Linked DNA regions of Homo sapiens: region 1 is linked to region 2. The links come from fine-mapping of genetic effects on gene expression. Tissue or cell type: whole blood. Region 2 holds a variant in brackets; the other region holds the start of a gene. All regions are shown on one strand. Distances are between the middles of the regions.

What was found. PIP is the estimated chance that this variant, and not a neighbour inherited with it, causes the effect.
Region 1: it holds the start of FIGNL2, and the variant in region 2 is fine-mapped to the expression of FIGNL2 in whole blood (TOPMed, PIP above 0.99). The same link has a PIP of 0.9 or more in blood mononuclear cells.

Annotation. Positions count from the first base shown.
Region 1 is chr12:51,844,879-51,852,964 of GRCh38, reverse strand. It overlaps FIGNL2 (fidgetin like 2), which reads left to right and starts at 4,247. Exons shown (of 2, transcript NM_001384995.1): 1 at 4,247-4,425. It overlaps FIGNL2-DT (FIGNL2 divergent transcript), which reads right to left and starts at 4,742. Exons shown (of 3, transcript NR_135803.1): 1 at 4,402-4,742; 2 at 2,655-2,704; 3 at 236-271. RefSeq lists enhancers at 4,023-5,014, 5,213-5,921, 6,632-7,340, 7,341-8,051.
Region 2 is chr12:51,867,242-51,875,340 of GRCh38, reverse strand. No RefSeq gene overlaps it. Among named protein-coding and RNA genes, the nearest start is that of ANKRD33, 17 kb to the left of the region's middle. RefSeq lists enhancers at 5,033-5,664, 5,665-6,298. The variant C/T (reference allele first, on the strand shown) is at 3,308.

The DNA of each region.
Region 1 (8,086 bases), 22 kb after region 2:
TAGTGCTGGATGATTTAAGTACAACCAGATGTGCTGGGAATCTCCTGTCAGGCTCAGGCCCAGAGAGGGCAGAGTGGGGGTGGAGAGACCTCTGGGCCACTTGGATTTGCAGTTCCCTATTTTGCCCTGGGTCTGTAAACTTTAGGGAGCGAAGAAGCCCAGTAGGATTCCAGAGGTTCCAGATGGGCTTGCATGTTAGAGGGCGGATCGTGCAGGACTTGGAGGAGGCTTCTGCCTTTGGACAGGATGGAGTGGGCTCAACCCCTGGAACCTAGGGGAAAAAAAAGATTGGAAGTGCTCTGCTAGGATGCGGGACAGATAGGGAAGACTTTACAGAGAAGGGCATACCTGAGTTGGGTTCTGAAGGATGAATAGGAGCTCATCAGGCAGAGTAGGGAAATGAGATTCCAGGCAGAAAGATTCTGAGGTATTAAAAAGGTATGCATGTTTAGTGGGAGTTTCTGTGTGACTGTAAGGTACATGGTGGGATCAATTTGGGGTGCTGGCTGAAGAGCTATGCTGCAGGATGGTGCAGGATGTGCTTCTGCTCAAAGAACAAACAGCAGGGCCATGTGTGGGGTAACGATTTTGGAAGCGAGGTATCAGCGTCCCCAAGTGTTGGGCCCCAAGGAGTTAGCGGAGACTGATAGCCACCCAGCTCCTCCTCCCAAGTCTGAGCTGCATAGAGGGAGGAACATGTTTTCTAGTTTGCCTACAGGCTTTCGAGGGCTCCTAGGCTGGATGTGGGGTGGGGATAGGATCCAGACTAGACACAGCTTGTAGCACAGTGGGAAGGCAAAGCTGGTATACGTTCATGAAGAGTAAGAGTTTTTGGGGTGGTTTGATCAGGGTTGGGGAGGCACTGGGAACTGGGCCTTGATGGGCAAAGAGCAAGAATGAGAAGGGCTAGAGTTTCCATTTGTGGGGACAGCAGCCTGAGTCCCGGGCAAGTGTGGTTGGGGGGAAGCCCAGCTGGGTGTGGTGCCCTCTGGGCACGCACCCCAATCCCCAAGCCAGGACACATTTCCTTCCTTTCCTGCTCATAATGACTCCTGAGTGGCCAGTCCAGAGGACCACAAAGAGGCCTCCCCGCCCTTTCCTCTTCCTCTCTTCCATTTCTTTCTCCCTTCCTCCCCCCACCCCATCCTTCCCCCAACCCGGGGCCCTTTTCTTTCCTTCCTCCTCACCCTACTTGCTCCTCCCGCCCTCTCTCTCTAGCTTTTACTTCCTCCCTCTAACTCTCCCCCCTCCCTCCAAAATCCTTTGAGCTGATTCTCCCTAGACCCACGGAGTTATTTTTCTTCTTAATGTTTTTAGAAAGCCCTTGTTGCAGGTCTCTGGACCAGGAAGGTCACACACTCCCACACTTCTGCTGCACACCCACATGCATGCGCCCGCAGCAGGTGCCTGCACTCAGCCACACAACCAAGCATAGCACCTGTCTCCCCTGGGGGCAGGATGGGGGTGGGATTCTCCACCTTGGGTGTGATACTAGCAAAAGATCTGGGAAAGAATGGAGGGCCCTCTGCAGAAGCCACACATTACCACCATCATTACCACTATTATTATCCAATCCATTGCCAGGCACTTGACCTGCCTGGGGATGATCACAGCCACCTCAGCAGGGGCTCTCAGGGCACAGATCCCTTGACTGGGGACAGCCAGGAGTGAGGTCACCCCAGAGTCCTCAGAGATCAGTCTCTCGGGCCCTGCCCAAGAGGGCAGGAGGTAGAGATGTGATGAACAGAGTATTTGTCAGCCCAGGAGGCTGGATGATGTATTAACAGGACTTTAATGAGCTCTGGGAGGGGGAGCCACACTTCATCGCCCTGAGCACTGGTGCAGGGTGGGAGGTGGAGGGGTGAAATGATCAACCTCACCCCCACCTGCTAACTAAACCTCTTAATATCACCCACAGCAGTCCGCCCATTGGAAACAACTCAGTACTGCCAAGCTGCTGGTCTTGCCCCTGGAGTCCAGCGAAGGCCTTATCCAGCAGGCTGGTGTCTTCCACTATCTCACTAGCAAGGCCTTCCTTAGCTTTAAGCTTGTCCTTCCTTTACTCCCGGACTCCTAGAGGATGAAGGAGAACCGGATCCCCGCTCCAGGGGAGCGCATGATCAATTCCTTCCTTCACACTGAGCGCCTCAGTCCAACCCCACTCCTGTCATCCCCCCTTCCCTGGAGCATGGTGGAGCAGGATCCCCATTGGCAATGCCAGACTTGGCTTCCTGGCACTAATCCTGCTGGCTGAGGCACCCAGCTCATAAGGATATTAGTCTTTCCCTTAGTTCCTGTCTCTGGCTGTCAGGGAACCTGACAGGTAGGGGTGGAAAAAGTGCAGTGGATTCTAGATCCAGCTTTGCTGTGTGACCCCAAGTGTGTCACTTCTCCTCTCTGGGCCTCCAGTGCTCCAACAATAAGGAAATAGCCAAGGAGTTCCTTCCAGCTGGTATCCTGGGATTGTTCCTCCAGCAAGGGTTCCAGTCTCCTAGCATGGTGGTTGTGGCTCCCTTCATCCTGCCTGATTCTGAAGCCAGGGGCTACTCTAGCACTCTGAGCCTTGACACGTCCCTCCTCCTGTGCCAGGGCAGAGCCCTGGGGGTGGGGAGTGGCAAGGAAGAGATAATTCTGGAGGTGGAAAAGACACTGACCTTGGCAAGTTCCAGAACCTGCGTGGGTGCCGGTTGCTTCCAAATGTGGGCTGGAAAAGAAGTGGGAGCTACTGAGGCCCTCCCCTTCTGTTTCCCTGAGTGGCACCTAAAGGAGTGCCCCAGACCTGTCAGACCCCAGAGCCTGCAGGGGAATCTGCATTAGAAGAAGGGAGGGGGTAGTGTTTGGAGTTCTACAGGCTAGTGGGTGAGGGCCAATCTTGCCCTACTGACACTCAGGCTAGGCAGCCACTCAAAAGGGAAACAAGCTCTCAGGAGAGAGGACCCTTAAGCACTGCCCTTGGGTGGAAACAGGATTGCCTTGGGACATCTGGAGGCTCAACAGCAGGAAGGTTCTCTGGACCCTCCATCATCAGCACAGCCCTCCTCCTACCTTCTCCTGGGGCAAAGCCGGTTCCTGGCCTTTATCCCTGATGAAGCCTTGAGTGTGTGTGTGTCGGGCAGAATTCTGTCTACCCTTCGACTGGGAGCTCCAGGAAGACAGGGCTGTGCCTCTTGGACTCTCTTGGGTATCCCTGGTGCACAGTCCAATGTTTGGCACAAAGTTAACACTCAGTATGTATCTATTGAACGGATGTCTTTGGACACTCTCAGTGGACTAGAGGTCTGGGATTCATCCCTCATCTTTTCTTCCTGCCAGTCATCCTGCTTGGCCCAGTGTGACTGCCGCCTTCTGGGCAAGCCCTCCAGTGGAGCCCTCTGTTTAGATCTCACACCCTACACTCCGCTGCCCCCGTCCAGTGCTCGCCCTCCTCCCCCGCAGCCACCCGCTCCCGGAGTGGCATCAGCGCAGAGCCGCGGCCTTGCCTGGCGGTGCGTCCTGCCCTCTGCAGCCCGGGAGGGCAGGCGCAGCAGAGTCCCGCGCGCAGTGGGTTCTCAGCTCACCTGGGGGCGGAGGAAGTGAGCAAGAGTCCTCCAGACTGGGGCCAGGGGGCCAAGGCAGTCCTGGGAAAGGGGGTCTGGGGCGGCCCGCGGACGGGGCGGGCCCAGGCCGGCTGCCTTCCCCTTTGCCCTTCGACCCAGGAAGCCGCCCACATCCAGCGGACACGCTCGACGGGCTGGGCTGCTCAGTCCCGGCCTCGGCCCCGTCCCCATGCCGTCCCCCACCCCTACCCGCCGGCCCGACCCCCACCCCAACCCCAGCTTCCCGCTCCGACGGCCGGGAGAGGCGGGGCGGACGGGTCTGAGAGTGGCGAAGGACACTCTCCACACCGAGGGTCACTTGCTCTTTTTTCCCCTCTGTGGCTAATTTATTTTAGAGCCAGGGGCGGGAGGGGGCGGGGCCAGCCGGGAGGGTGGCAAGGAGGGGCTGGGCGAGCCCAGGGGAGGTGGGGGCGGGGCGGGGGCGAGGTGGGGGAGGGCGGGGAAGAAGCCGGGGGTGGAGGGGCCAGAGAAGGGGCGGGAGCTGGGGGAAGAGAGGGGCACTAGGAGAGGGAGGAGCAGGGAAAGGGGAGGGGAGGGAGGGCCTGCGAGGGAGGGCCCTGGGGGCGGGCGAGGGGAGGCGGGGGTGGGGGTGGGGGTCTTTCCTGCGGGGGGAGCCGGGGCCGCCCCTTGTCCGGCCACCCCCACTGCCCAGTCCCGCTCCCGCCCGCGGCGGCCGCAGCAGCCGCAGCAGCAGCGGCTCCAGGATGGTGAGCGCCACTGCCCCCCAGCCCAGGCCTGTCGCCCCCGGCCCGCGCCGCCGCCCCGGTCCCCGGGCCGGACGCGCCCCCAGGCCGCGCACACTCACCTAGGACCCGGCCGTGATGCCGAGGTACGGGGCCGCGGGCGGGCCGGGATGGGGCGGGGGGAGGTGACCGTTCGGTCAGGGTGTCCGGAGCTTTGTCCGCCGGCCCGGGGCCGGAGAGGGCCGAGAGGGCGGGGGCTGCTAGTCGCGGGGTTCAGCTCGGCGGGGGTCGGAGGGCAGGGCCGGCGAGAGACCCTAGCGGGTACGTGGGAGCCGAGGGTCACTTCTCGGGGGGAGGGGGCGGGCAGAGCAGGGGATAGCCGCCCGGCCGCCGACGGGCACCCGTCTCGCAGCCCCCTCTGGTGCGGGGGCTGCAGCGAAAGCGAGCAGCCGGCTCGGGGGCGTCTGCTGGCCTGGGGGTGGGGAGCCAAGGTTTGCGGGTTCGGGTCCCAGAAGGATCCAGCGTCCGGAGCCCGAGGGCCGGCCCGCAGGCCCCTCCCACTCCGTCAGGTCTTTGTCCAGCGGCCCCTGTGTGTGTGTGTGGGAGGGGTGGGGGCTGGGTTACTGGCCCGGAGATTCCCCAGCATGGTGACGGGGCAGTGACAGGAGGCCGAGGCTACTTAGGGTCCCCGCGCCCCTAACACCCACCCTCTTCATGTCTTCTCCTCTGGCCCGGGAGAACAGAGCCCGCGTCTCAGAGTCAGGGGGTTGTAGGAGGCTGTACTCACCTTCACCCTGGGGCTACAGGCAACAAGGGGGACCCCCGGAGCGCCCAGCTCTCCAGAGAGGGCCCCTCAAACTTCCCCACCGCAAGAGCCCTCTCCTGTTCTACACAGAGATTCGCATGCTAGCAACCCCCCCGCCGCTGCAGAGGGTCCTTCGCAGATTGCTGAGCACCCTGTAGGTGATCAGCAAATGCTGGTGCCCTTCCCCAGCCCCGCTGGTCCCCCTGCCCCCGCCAGAGGAGGAGGCCTGGGAAGGGGTCTGCGCGGGGCAGAGAGCGCGCGGCCTGGACCCTGCGCCCAGCGGCGGCCCGGAGCGCAGGGGTGGGTGGACGGGTGGGTGGGCTGTTAAAGGGACGGTCACTAAATCAGGATTAGGCCGTAGGGCTGTCAGGCTGCCGGCCCTGTCTCCATGGATACCTAATTTGGAGGAGAATAGAGGACTGAAGAATGTTTGTGTTGTCCGCACGGGCTGTGGCGGCGGAGCGGTCTCCTGCTTTCCGCCCGGCAGCGAGGAGTGGGGACCCGGTTCCAGCCCAACTCTGGGCTTACGGCGCAGGTGGGCTTCCCGGTTCCTGGGCCGTGGGGCCTCCCCTGTGGAGCCGCCCAGTCTCTGGAGTGGGCTGGGCCCGCAGATGCCACGGTGCGAAACCCTCTGACCCTGCAGAGGGAGTCCCAGACCCTCCCGGAGCCTACCCCGAAATCCCATAGCATCCTCCTAAAGCCTCCCCGAGCCTCTCAGTCCGGAACCGACGCCATTCCCCGCTGTGCCTGAGCCCCCAAGGACGGGCGCGCCGGGCTGCCCGGTGCTGTGGTGCCGCCGCCACCCAGCTGTGGGACGCGGGTACCGGGCGGCCGCGCGAGCTGCGGGCAGGGGGCGGGGCGGGACTTCCTGGGGTGGGCGAGGAAAGGGGCGGGGCTTGCTGGGGTGGCTGGGCTGGACGGGTGACAGGCCTCGTAAATCCCCTTTCCCATGTTTAACACCATTTCATTTCTTTCCACTTGATTCCATTGGCATCCAAGGCAGACGGGAGCGACCCTCGTGTCCTCGCTGTAATATCTTCTGGGCGAAGCCCTTTTGGGCCAAAGGGAATTAGGCTGTGTGGGGCAGAGGAGTTGCTCCTGGGGAGGCCTAGAGGACCCGCATTCCTCGGGGGGATTCCTGTTGCCCCCACCCCCGCCCCAGAAGAAGAAACAGAAGGGGCTGAGAGACACAGAAATGAGTTTGGCTTCGGAGGCCCTGCCCGATTCTCTGGCCGTGGTATGGCTGAGGGCTGGGCTGAGGATCCCGTAACTGTCAATTCCAGTACCAGCCTGGGCGAAGGCTGGGGAGAGCCACCCAGACTGAGTGTGGCGTCGCAGAGCCCTTTCCTGCCTTTCTTCTGCTCACCCATGGCCACAGCTTTTTATGGATCAGGACTCCCCTCCCTGCCCTGCCTGGGCCGCAGCTTTATTGCTGAGATCTAGGGCTCTCTCCACGCAATTTCACGCCTCTCTGCCTTTGCTCCCGCTGTTCCTCCAGCCAAATGCCTTCCTCATTGTCCCTGTCTTTCCACAACCTCCTTATTCTTCAGGGCCCAACTCGGATGCGCACCTCCTCCGCATCACCTCCCCAGCCCCGAGCTTCTGTCACTTGCTCCTCCCTCCGTGGCCTGCACCTGTGCTCCCTTCCGCCTTTGTGGCGGGGTCCACTCAGGGCTTTGACTGAAATGGAGCATGTACTCCCTGGCCCTGCCCCCAGTGGGCTTGCCACAGGGCTTGACACCTTGTGGGTGCTCCATAAATATTGGTTGGCTGAATAAAAGGGGTTTTGTAAGGGCCTTTAGCCAGGCAGTCTGCATAGCATGGAATCTGGCCACCTTCAGGTAAACAGCTCTGTGCTCTTGGGTGGTGGAGACCCCTGGGTGGGGCTCCTCCTCTCCCTTTCCCTTATTTGCCTCCTTCTCCTCCCCATGACCCTACCCCACCCCCCCAAGTCCGGGGAGGACTTTGCCCCTTCCCTTCCCCACAGACCAGCATTCTTTCCCTGCCATTATCATTCTGTTAAACAGAGAGGCCAGTCAGGATCCATATGGATCACATTAACAATTGCTTATTATCTGGGCCAGGACTCCCCCGACTCTCCCCCCAAGCTCCGACTGCTGCCATTGCTGGACCCTTAGGAGCCCTGCCTTCCCCTCCCCCTGCCGTCGGTCAGCCAGGGAGGGCAAGAGACAGGCTGGTCTCCCTCACCTTCCCTGTGCCTTCTAGCAGAACTTTGCCTCTCCTGGACTTGGCGGTTATCGACTCCTTTACCCGATTTAATGAAAACCAGGTTCCTGGAAGGAGCATGGCTCTGCAAAGCTCCAGGGCTGCAGCAGGGAGATGTGGACTCCAGGCCCCAGTGCCCCTGTGCTCTGCAGCCCTGAGACCCCCTTCAGGGGACAGAGACTGTGGGGGGGGGGCGGTGAGCCACAAGAGGTCAAGTATGGGGTGCTGGCATCTGCTACCTTAGCCTTGGGCTGGTCCTGCCCCCTTTTGGGAGCTGGCTGTCTGGTGAGGGAGATCAGGGCAGAGGGACCCTGCCAGGCTCTGTGGTGTTGGGCTCCCAGCCTTTCCCTGCAGTCAAAGAAGCAAGAAATCTGTTAGAGCTTCCCAGAGCAGCCACTGAATTGGCCTTGAAGGATGGGGAGTGTACTTCACGTTTAAACCCATATATAACCCAGGAATACTAGGGCATGGAAGGAGCCTCCAAGATTACCCATTCTGGGTATCCATAACTTTTTTTGATTTACAGAGCCCTTGGAGACACTGATGAAAGCCATCCCCAGAAAAATGCACTTCCGTTAATTGACACCAGACTTTGCATTCTGCTTTAGAGGATTCTTGGATCCCCTGAAGCCCATGGGGACCTTATGTCAAGAAACCCTCACCCCAGTCCATCCCTCTCTGATGTGCTGAGGACAGAGTCATGCCTGCAGCCTGGGTTTCCTGACCTCCCCACTCAGTGCTCACTCCATGGCCATATTACTTGCAGTAGGACCGCC
Region 2 (8,099 bases):
TGGGTCTTGGCAGGGCAGATGCACAGGAGGGTTGTGGGGTTCCGTTTCTGGCTCAAAGGAAAGGGAGTTATTTCTGTAGTTATTTCTGTATATCAGCTTTAGCCAACCTGGATGGGTACCCCAAGTGTGAGGATTTTTTTTTTTCAGGAGTCTTGCTCCGTTGCCCAGGCTGCAGTGCAGTGGCGCGATCTCGGCTCACTGCAACCTCTGCCTCCCAGGTTCAAGCAATTTTCCTGCCTCAGCCACCTGAGTACCCGGGATTACAGATGTGAGCCACCACACCCGGCTTACTTTTGTATTTTTTTTTTCTTTTTTTTGAGACAGAGTTTCATTCTTGTAGCCCAGGCTGGAGTGCAGTGACGCCATCTTGGCTCACGGCAACCTCTGCCTCCAAGGTTCAAGCGATTCTTTTCTGTCTCAGCCTCCCGAGCAGCTGGGACTATAGGCATGTGCCACCAAACCTGGCTAATTTTTGTATTTTTAGTAGAGACGCGGTTTTACCATGTTGGCTAGGCTGGTCTTGAACTCCTGACCTCGGGTGATCCGCCCATCTCAGCCTCCCAAAGTGCTGTGATTACAGGTGTGAGCCACAGCACATGGCCAAGTGTGAGGATTCTTCTACCTTCTACCTGCATTGATGCCCTGTCTTGAAGTGCCCTGTCCAGGCCTCCCTCCTCAAGAGGACTCAATAGGGATCCCTTCCCAGCCCCTGCCAAGTTCCCCAGGCCTGGTCTTGACCCTCTCTGTGTATGCCTTTGTTGATAGAAATGATTGTGGTAGTGGGGCATGGAGTTGTTGGTTAATGTGTAAAATAATGGATAGCTCCTGGATGACACAGGTACACTTCAGCCAGGGCCTTCTGCAGTCTCAGGCTGGTGGTCTTAAGGATTAAAAGCAAAGGCCCTTTATGGATTAACCTCCTTTGGACCTCTCAGCCGCTGGGGTCTGACAGGAGTTCACAAGGATGTTCCTTTGCCTGCCGCTCCTATTTCTCAATCACTCTCTTCAGTGTCTTCTGCTGGTACTCCTCTTTCTGTCTGCCTGTCATCCCCTTTTCTTCAGCTTGATCTTTCTCATCTCGCCATCTGGCTCTTTCCATCTCTCTCTCCCTCTGATGCTCTCTCTTAAGCCCTGATAACATACACTGCTTGCTCCCTAACTTGCTCTCTGACTGCCGTGCGTAATCTCCAGCCATCTAATCCTTTGGGCTGGATTTTTGCCCAGAGTCTTGACTTGCGGAATTCAATCAGAAGAGAAGGTGGTGGGGCGGGGGGCGGGGGGGCGGTGCAGGGGCAAATCTACAGAGAAGGAACTCAGGAAACTTTTGAGTCTGGTTTGGGAACAAAATACTGTGTCATCTCATCCCTTTCTTTTCTTCTGGGATCTTTTTCCAGCAGAAGCCCCTCTCCTCCCAGCCTCCAGGCTTGGTGGCAGTTACAGCTGGAGCCGGCAGTCAGTGGGGAAATGGCCCAGCCCAGCTGAAGGACTAGGTAGATGCAGGATGGGACCCAGCAGAGCAGGGCAGAGAATGGAGGAGGTGGCCTCTGACCCCAGCTCTGGCCCTTTCTAGGGGTCCTGTGTGACCTGCCATAGGTCATGCCCCCTACTCCCGAATCATGATCTGCATCACAAAGCCCACAGCTTGTAACTCAGAGCCAGCCAGGAAGGTCTGGGATTGATTTAGGGTCCACTCTGACCAGCTCACCCTCACTGGACTATGACCCCTTGGGTGGGGGTGAGGACAAGGGTCATGGGTGAAGTTCAGGCAGGGGTGTCCTGACCACCACTACAGCATACCTGTTGCAAATCCTTCTGCACTCCTAGTGGACTGGAGGGGAGGCCTGGGCACATGAGTTCAAGGTTCTCGCTAAATAACCCATTCCCTCTGGCACAGCTCAGGGCCACGGTGAGGGAGCCACGGTCATTGCCTAGTGGGCGTTCAGGGACAGCATTCTCAGGAATCAGGCTCAAGGTGTCTTACACAGCAGAGAGAGCTTCATTGCCCACCAAAAGGGCAGTCAGTTAAGTCCTACGTAAGCCCTTCCACCCATCACCACCAACCGCAGTTACACTGAGCTGCTCAGAGCCAGTGTACATTTTTGTTTACAAAAATTTTTACATTTATGTTTAGCCTGATATATTTCATGTTGTCAGTTTCCATTCATCCACCATTCCCTTCTGGAGATATCACTGAAGAATATTCTCTACTCTGAGTATTTCACTTTTTTGACCGTCATCCACAGTAAATACATTTACTTCTGGACCCAGGACACATGAATGCACATGTAACTACAAGCAGCGTTTCCTGAAACTGTAAAGCACTGTTATGTTTTCTACTCTATTCTGTTTTGTTGTAAGGAAAAAAAAAGTTTTTAAAATGATTCCGTCAACAACTAGTGGGCCGGCACTTAGAGTTTCCAGTAGATAACCTCTTACATCTTTACACCTTCGCAAGTCTTTAAAGCCCATCTTTCAAACACAGAATCCATATAATCTTCATAAAAGCCAGTGAGGAAGATAAGGCAGGGTTTTTCATTGACCCATCTTACAGATGAGAAAACAGAGACTCTGTGAGATCTGCTGAAGATCACCCAGCTGGTGTGTGGCAGGGATGGGATTCTGAGTCAGGTCTTTTGTACACCTGTTCATGGTGCCCTAATACCCCTAATACCCCGTCGCTTCTCTCTTTCCCTGTCCTCTGACAGCCTCCTGATTGAGGTCATTGTCTGTTTCCAGTCCGAAGGCCATCTCCTTCCATGGGGAAGATGGAGAGACACGGCAGCTGAGTAATTTTGTTTCCCGTCATCTGTTAAACACCGCACCATCTGTCAATTCCACCCTCAGCCTCCCACCCACTACCCAGAGGCCAGCGTGGGGGAGGAGGCCATTTTCTTAGAGTCTGAGCCTTCAGGCCCACTCCCACAAAAAGACTCAGAGTACCCACAAAAAGCTCATTTTTCAGCTCAGAACCAACAGCTGTGGACTAGAATTACAGGGGGCAGCACAGGAACAAGATTAAGGACTTTCTGAGGTCAGAGGTATAACGCAAGGTGAGTCACCCCTCCCTGACCACCAGGTCTTGTCTTCATGCCCCCCGCAGCTCCACCCCCCATCTTGCTGAGGATCCAGAGCTGTGAGGAAGGTGAGCTGATCCCAGCAGCAGGAGCCCTGCAAGCCGCTTCAAGTGCGGCAAAGCGAGTCCATCTTACAGGGGCCTGGGCAGATTTATGGGGCCTTGGGTGTGGCTGGCTGTTGCTCAGCTTCCGCCTTTCTAATTCTCCCGTCTCCTCCATCACCCCGCCCCCTC[C/T]TCAAGAAGGCCTTTGTGCAGGACAATGAGGAATCTATAAATTCCGGGGGACAGGGATGGGGGGAGGGGAACACTGGTCACTTCAGCTCCCCCCGTCCACCCTGGGGGCCCTGCATAGATAGCAAGGAGGGGCTTCCATGGAGTGGCCCCATCTTGTCTGATTCACACTGGAGCCCAGAGACAGAAGTGGGCCAAGCCCCACCACTGGCTTTCACAGATGAAGAAACTGAGGCTCAGAGGCAGAGGGCGTCTCCAGTCCCTGCTTCATTCACTCTGCCTCTCACTCATGTATTCATTCTCCTCCTCTTACCTATGCCCTGGTCCTTCCCTCACGCAGGCATTCACTCCACAAATACCTATGGAGTTCTAGATGAGCACCAGGCCAGGTACAGAGGGGGCAATGGTTGGTGAGACCCAGCCCCTCCACCAGCCCCCCACTCTGGAGGGTCATACAGCAGTGAGCTATGGTTCCAGAAGAGCCAAAGCATAGCTCCAGCCCCAGTTTTCCCGGCTGGCAACCTGCACCCTTTCATCAGCAAGCCCTACACGGCTTTCATGAGCATTTTGGAGTTTGATCCTGGTGGGGTCCCTGGGAGACAGGTATTATGTACGCCTCCCCCACCATTTTGCTAATGTGGTCTCAAGAGGGTAAACGGTTGCCCTCTGGTGGGCAAGATCACCCCTCTGGTGGGTAGCAGAACTGAACCAGGAACCACCCTCCGCACCACTCCAAGTGCTGTGGGGACTCAGAATATGGGCGTGGGCTGAGGCTCAACTTCCTCTTCTACCACTTGCCCAGCTGGCCCTGTGCCTGACCCCCATGCTGAGCTTTCCCTGGTGTTCTTCCCATCTTCCCACAGTAGTTATTAAATGTCCCAGGCTCACCCTGATTTCTTTACCCCACTCATCTATCTGTTGGATAGTAATAATGAATTCAATGCTTATGCTGCCTGTGTGTTGTGGTGTGGATCTGTGTGTGTGGTATATCTACTTGTAAACTGAGGCTATTAGTGTCTACTTCACAGGAGGATGGAATGAGTTAAATTAAACTAAACTATGTAAAGGACTTAGAATGATGTCTGGCACAGTCAGCTGATTAGCTGTCAGCCAAGATTATTGTTATAGTAAGCCATGGGTCTGCCCATGTGTGCAAAGCATCTAGGTGGGTACCAGGTGAGTACAGGTGTTTGTAGCTGGCCCCACCCAGAGAGAAGCCCTCTCGGAGGTGACCAGATGAACTAGCATCCAGTTTGGTCCCAGGGACTCCTTTCCTGGAATGTATGGAGCATGTACTGAGTGCTTCTTGGTTTGCACCAGGCATTGTGCTAGAGAACAAGAAAGACAAGGTCCCCGCGTTCATGAAGCTGACATTCTGGTAAGTGAAACAGACCACAAACCAAGTGAATAAGAAAGATAATTACAGAATGTGGTGAGTTCAGTGGAAGAAATATATAAGGTTAAGTGACAGACTGGATCAGGCAGATGGGGCTGCTTTATTATTGTGGTCAGGGATGATGGGAAGGTGACGTTCCTGGGAAGGATCTGGGCAGAGCGATCCAGGAAAAGCACCAGCAAAGCCAAGGCCAGAGGTGGGGGAAAGCTTATCAAGTTCAATGAACAGAAAGGCAGCCAGTGTAAGCAGTGTCTGGGCAGTGGGGAGAAGGATAGGAAGAGAGGTCTGTCTGTGTAGGTAGGGGCTGGGGGAAAAGGTTTGGGCTTCCTTTGCAGGGAAGCTGTGGGTGGCTGTTAAGCGAGGAATCACATGCCCTGGTGTTTTCCTGATTTGTATTTTTAAAGGTCTCTTTGCCTGCAGTGTGAACTGATTGTTGGGGACCCTGGGAGAGCGGACAGGAGTCTTTTCGATTGTGCAGGGAAGTAACAGGAGCTTGGGCAGTTGAGTGGGGGCAGGGGCAGGGGCTGTTTTAGGAACTATGTTAGAGACAGAGGAACAAGATTCAGGGTGAGGGTGGGAGAGGAATTCAAGAAGAAAGAAAGGCCCAGGGAGCCCAGATGATCCAGTTGTTTCTACTCTGGGCCAGGAGAGTCCCCCTGTCCTCTTTAGCCCTGGCCCTGACCCACAGGGGCCAACCCTAGCCATTTGCTCTCCCACTGTGTCTACCCTCAGCAGCCCTAAATCAAGGGCAGGCCAGGCTGGCTCATCCGAGACCTTTGTGAGAAACGGTGCCCCCTGCCCTCCTTCAGAACGAGTCAGCACCTGCCAAGGCCGAGCTTGGAATCCCACTCACCCACAACCACGCCTCCCACCTTGTATAGGTCACAACCTGCACAACCGTACAGCTCCCCTCTCCCTAGCCTGGGCCACTGGCTCGACCTGAAAATCTTCGGAACTTTGAGGACCTAAAGGCCCGGAGCTGGTTGCGGCCGGCCCTGGCCTGAAACAACTCTGGGGGTGGGGGCGGCCGGAGACTCGGCCTTTCCAAAGGGAATCTCTCAGCCCTCGTCCCGGGAGAAGGAGGTGTCTCCACCGGGCCCTCACATCACTCTCCCCTAGAAGCTGGGATGCCCGCGCCCCGGCGGCCAGAGCCGCCCCTCCCGGACCCCCTCCCCGCCGGTTCCCGGCCGGGGAGGCCGCCGCCCCTCCCGCAGGAGCGAGCTGCCGAGCCGATCTTCCGGCCCCAGGCTACGGCGGGGGAGGGTCCGAGCGGTAATTGCTGCCATCTGCTCCCTCCTCCCTCCTCTTCCCCCACAGCCTGGGGGAGGCTCCGAGGCTCGCGCGCTGGCTCCGCGCCCCCGCGTCCGAACGTCCCCCTTTCACGCGCAGCCCTGGCCACCGAGGGGCGGGAGCTCCAGGTGGCCCGCGAGCCCCCCTGGGGCGAGTGCGGGGGTGAACCGAGAGCACCCACCAGCATCTCTTTGCTGGAGGGCGGGCCCTAGTCGGAGCCACACAGCATTGCGCGACAGAATCCCACCGCTGGGGTTCTGCTCCTCGTGGAGCCAGGCCTTGGGAAGCACGGGGGTGTCCCTCGGCCACTCGCTCGGCTGGCGTGCACACGGGTGGATAGTTCACGCCCGCCTCGGGATACGGACGTGTGGATCTGGATTTCGGACCTGGACAGACGCGTCCGGGGTGTGTGTAGGAGGGAGGAGCAGAGCCGAGGCCCGAGGCTGAAGCCGGTGGGGAGGAGGCAGGACTCTGCTCTTCGGGCCCGGCGGGCTGGAGTTATCGTCGGCTGGGGAACCTCGGGCAGCGCTCAGAGCCGTGTCCTCATCTGTTAAATGGGGACCCAGTACCTGCTTCTTGGGTGCATCCAGAGGATTTGATTCCACAGTCTGGGAAGCAACACCTGCGGGTGGGAGAATGGTTAGGCCAGGAAGAGGGAGTGTGGGCTGGGGATGGGAGGTTGGTATCAAGGCCATTTCCTGGGGTCTCCAGCAGCATGGGCTTCAGAGGGTGAAGATGTCTGATGACAGTGCTGGGGGGCATTGGAGGAGTTCGGGAATGTTTATGGATCACCCCCAGGCTATCAGAGTCTCAAATAATCTGTCGCATTTTTCTCATAAGAACACTTTTGCCTAGCACCCTGAGTTCTGATGTTTTGCTCCTCTTTTTTTCTTCTGGATTTCTGCTCACTAGAATACTCACAGGGTAGCAGAGAGCACCTGACTGCCCTGGTACAGGAAGCCACTCACCCCGGTCCGCTGGTGACACAGACAGCCGTGCTGCCCAGGACCCAGAAAACCTCACCTTGTGGCACAGAAGGTGCCCGCTGCCTCCCTCTCTTGTAGCCTTGCTGACTCCGACAAACCTGTGTTTGTCTCAGAGGCCAGCTCCTGCAGGACTGAACTACGCCTCCTTCCCCTAACCGTCACTGCCACCAGTCCGATGGCCTGACTCCTCAGCACAGTGAGCCTTGGGGTGCCGAGAGCAGGCCTCCTCAAAACCCTGGAGGGGCTGTCACTATAGGGAGGGGATACATTGTGAGAATTCTGGAATCACAGGGACCATTGGACAACCTGAGGGTAACTGACTTCTGCAGGGGTCAGGAGGATGCCCCAGAGTCAGTGGCTTCTGGGCTGGGGTTGGAGGGAGGAATAAAATAAAAGTTCACCAGGGCCGGAGGCTCGGCCCCAGGGAGGATTATTTGAGGCCTGAAGTTCTGGACCAGCCCAGGCAACACAGTGAGATACCATCTCTGAAAAAAAAAAATTAAAATATTAGCCAGCTGTGGTGGTACGTGTCTGTAGTCCTACCTACTCTGGAGGCTGAGGCAGAAAGATTGCTTGAGCCCAGGAGTTGGAAGCTGCAGTGAGCTATGATTGTGCCACTGCACTCCAGCCTGGGTGACAGACTGAGACTCCATCTCTAAAAAAGTTTAAAAGTTCACCAGAGAAGGAAGAGAAGTGGTGCTCCAGGAAGAAGGAGCAGTGTGTGCAAAGATGGGAGTGTGAAAGTCCAGCTGCAGCCTGGGGAAGCATGGCAAGTGTGATGTACCTGCAGGAAGAGTGTTGGAGGGGAGGAGTTGACTGGGATATGGAGGGGAACCATGTGTGAAGGGAGTCTGAAGGGACACAAATACCAGGTCAAGGAATTTTGACTTGAGTTTGTTATAACAAATTGAAGTATCTGCAGGAAGGGGTAGACAGGAACAAAAATGGCCAAACACATGAAGCTGACAAGAAGTAAAATAAGAAGGCAAGGGCCAGCCTAAGTGATAAAAAGGCCATTCACTCATCTGGGCCTCAGACCTGGGAGACAATAGGGATTGGTGAGGTTTCCAGAATTCCCTCAATGGTGCATAGGTAAGCCCCAGGGATACCTTGTAAAGGCCAC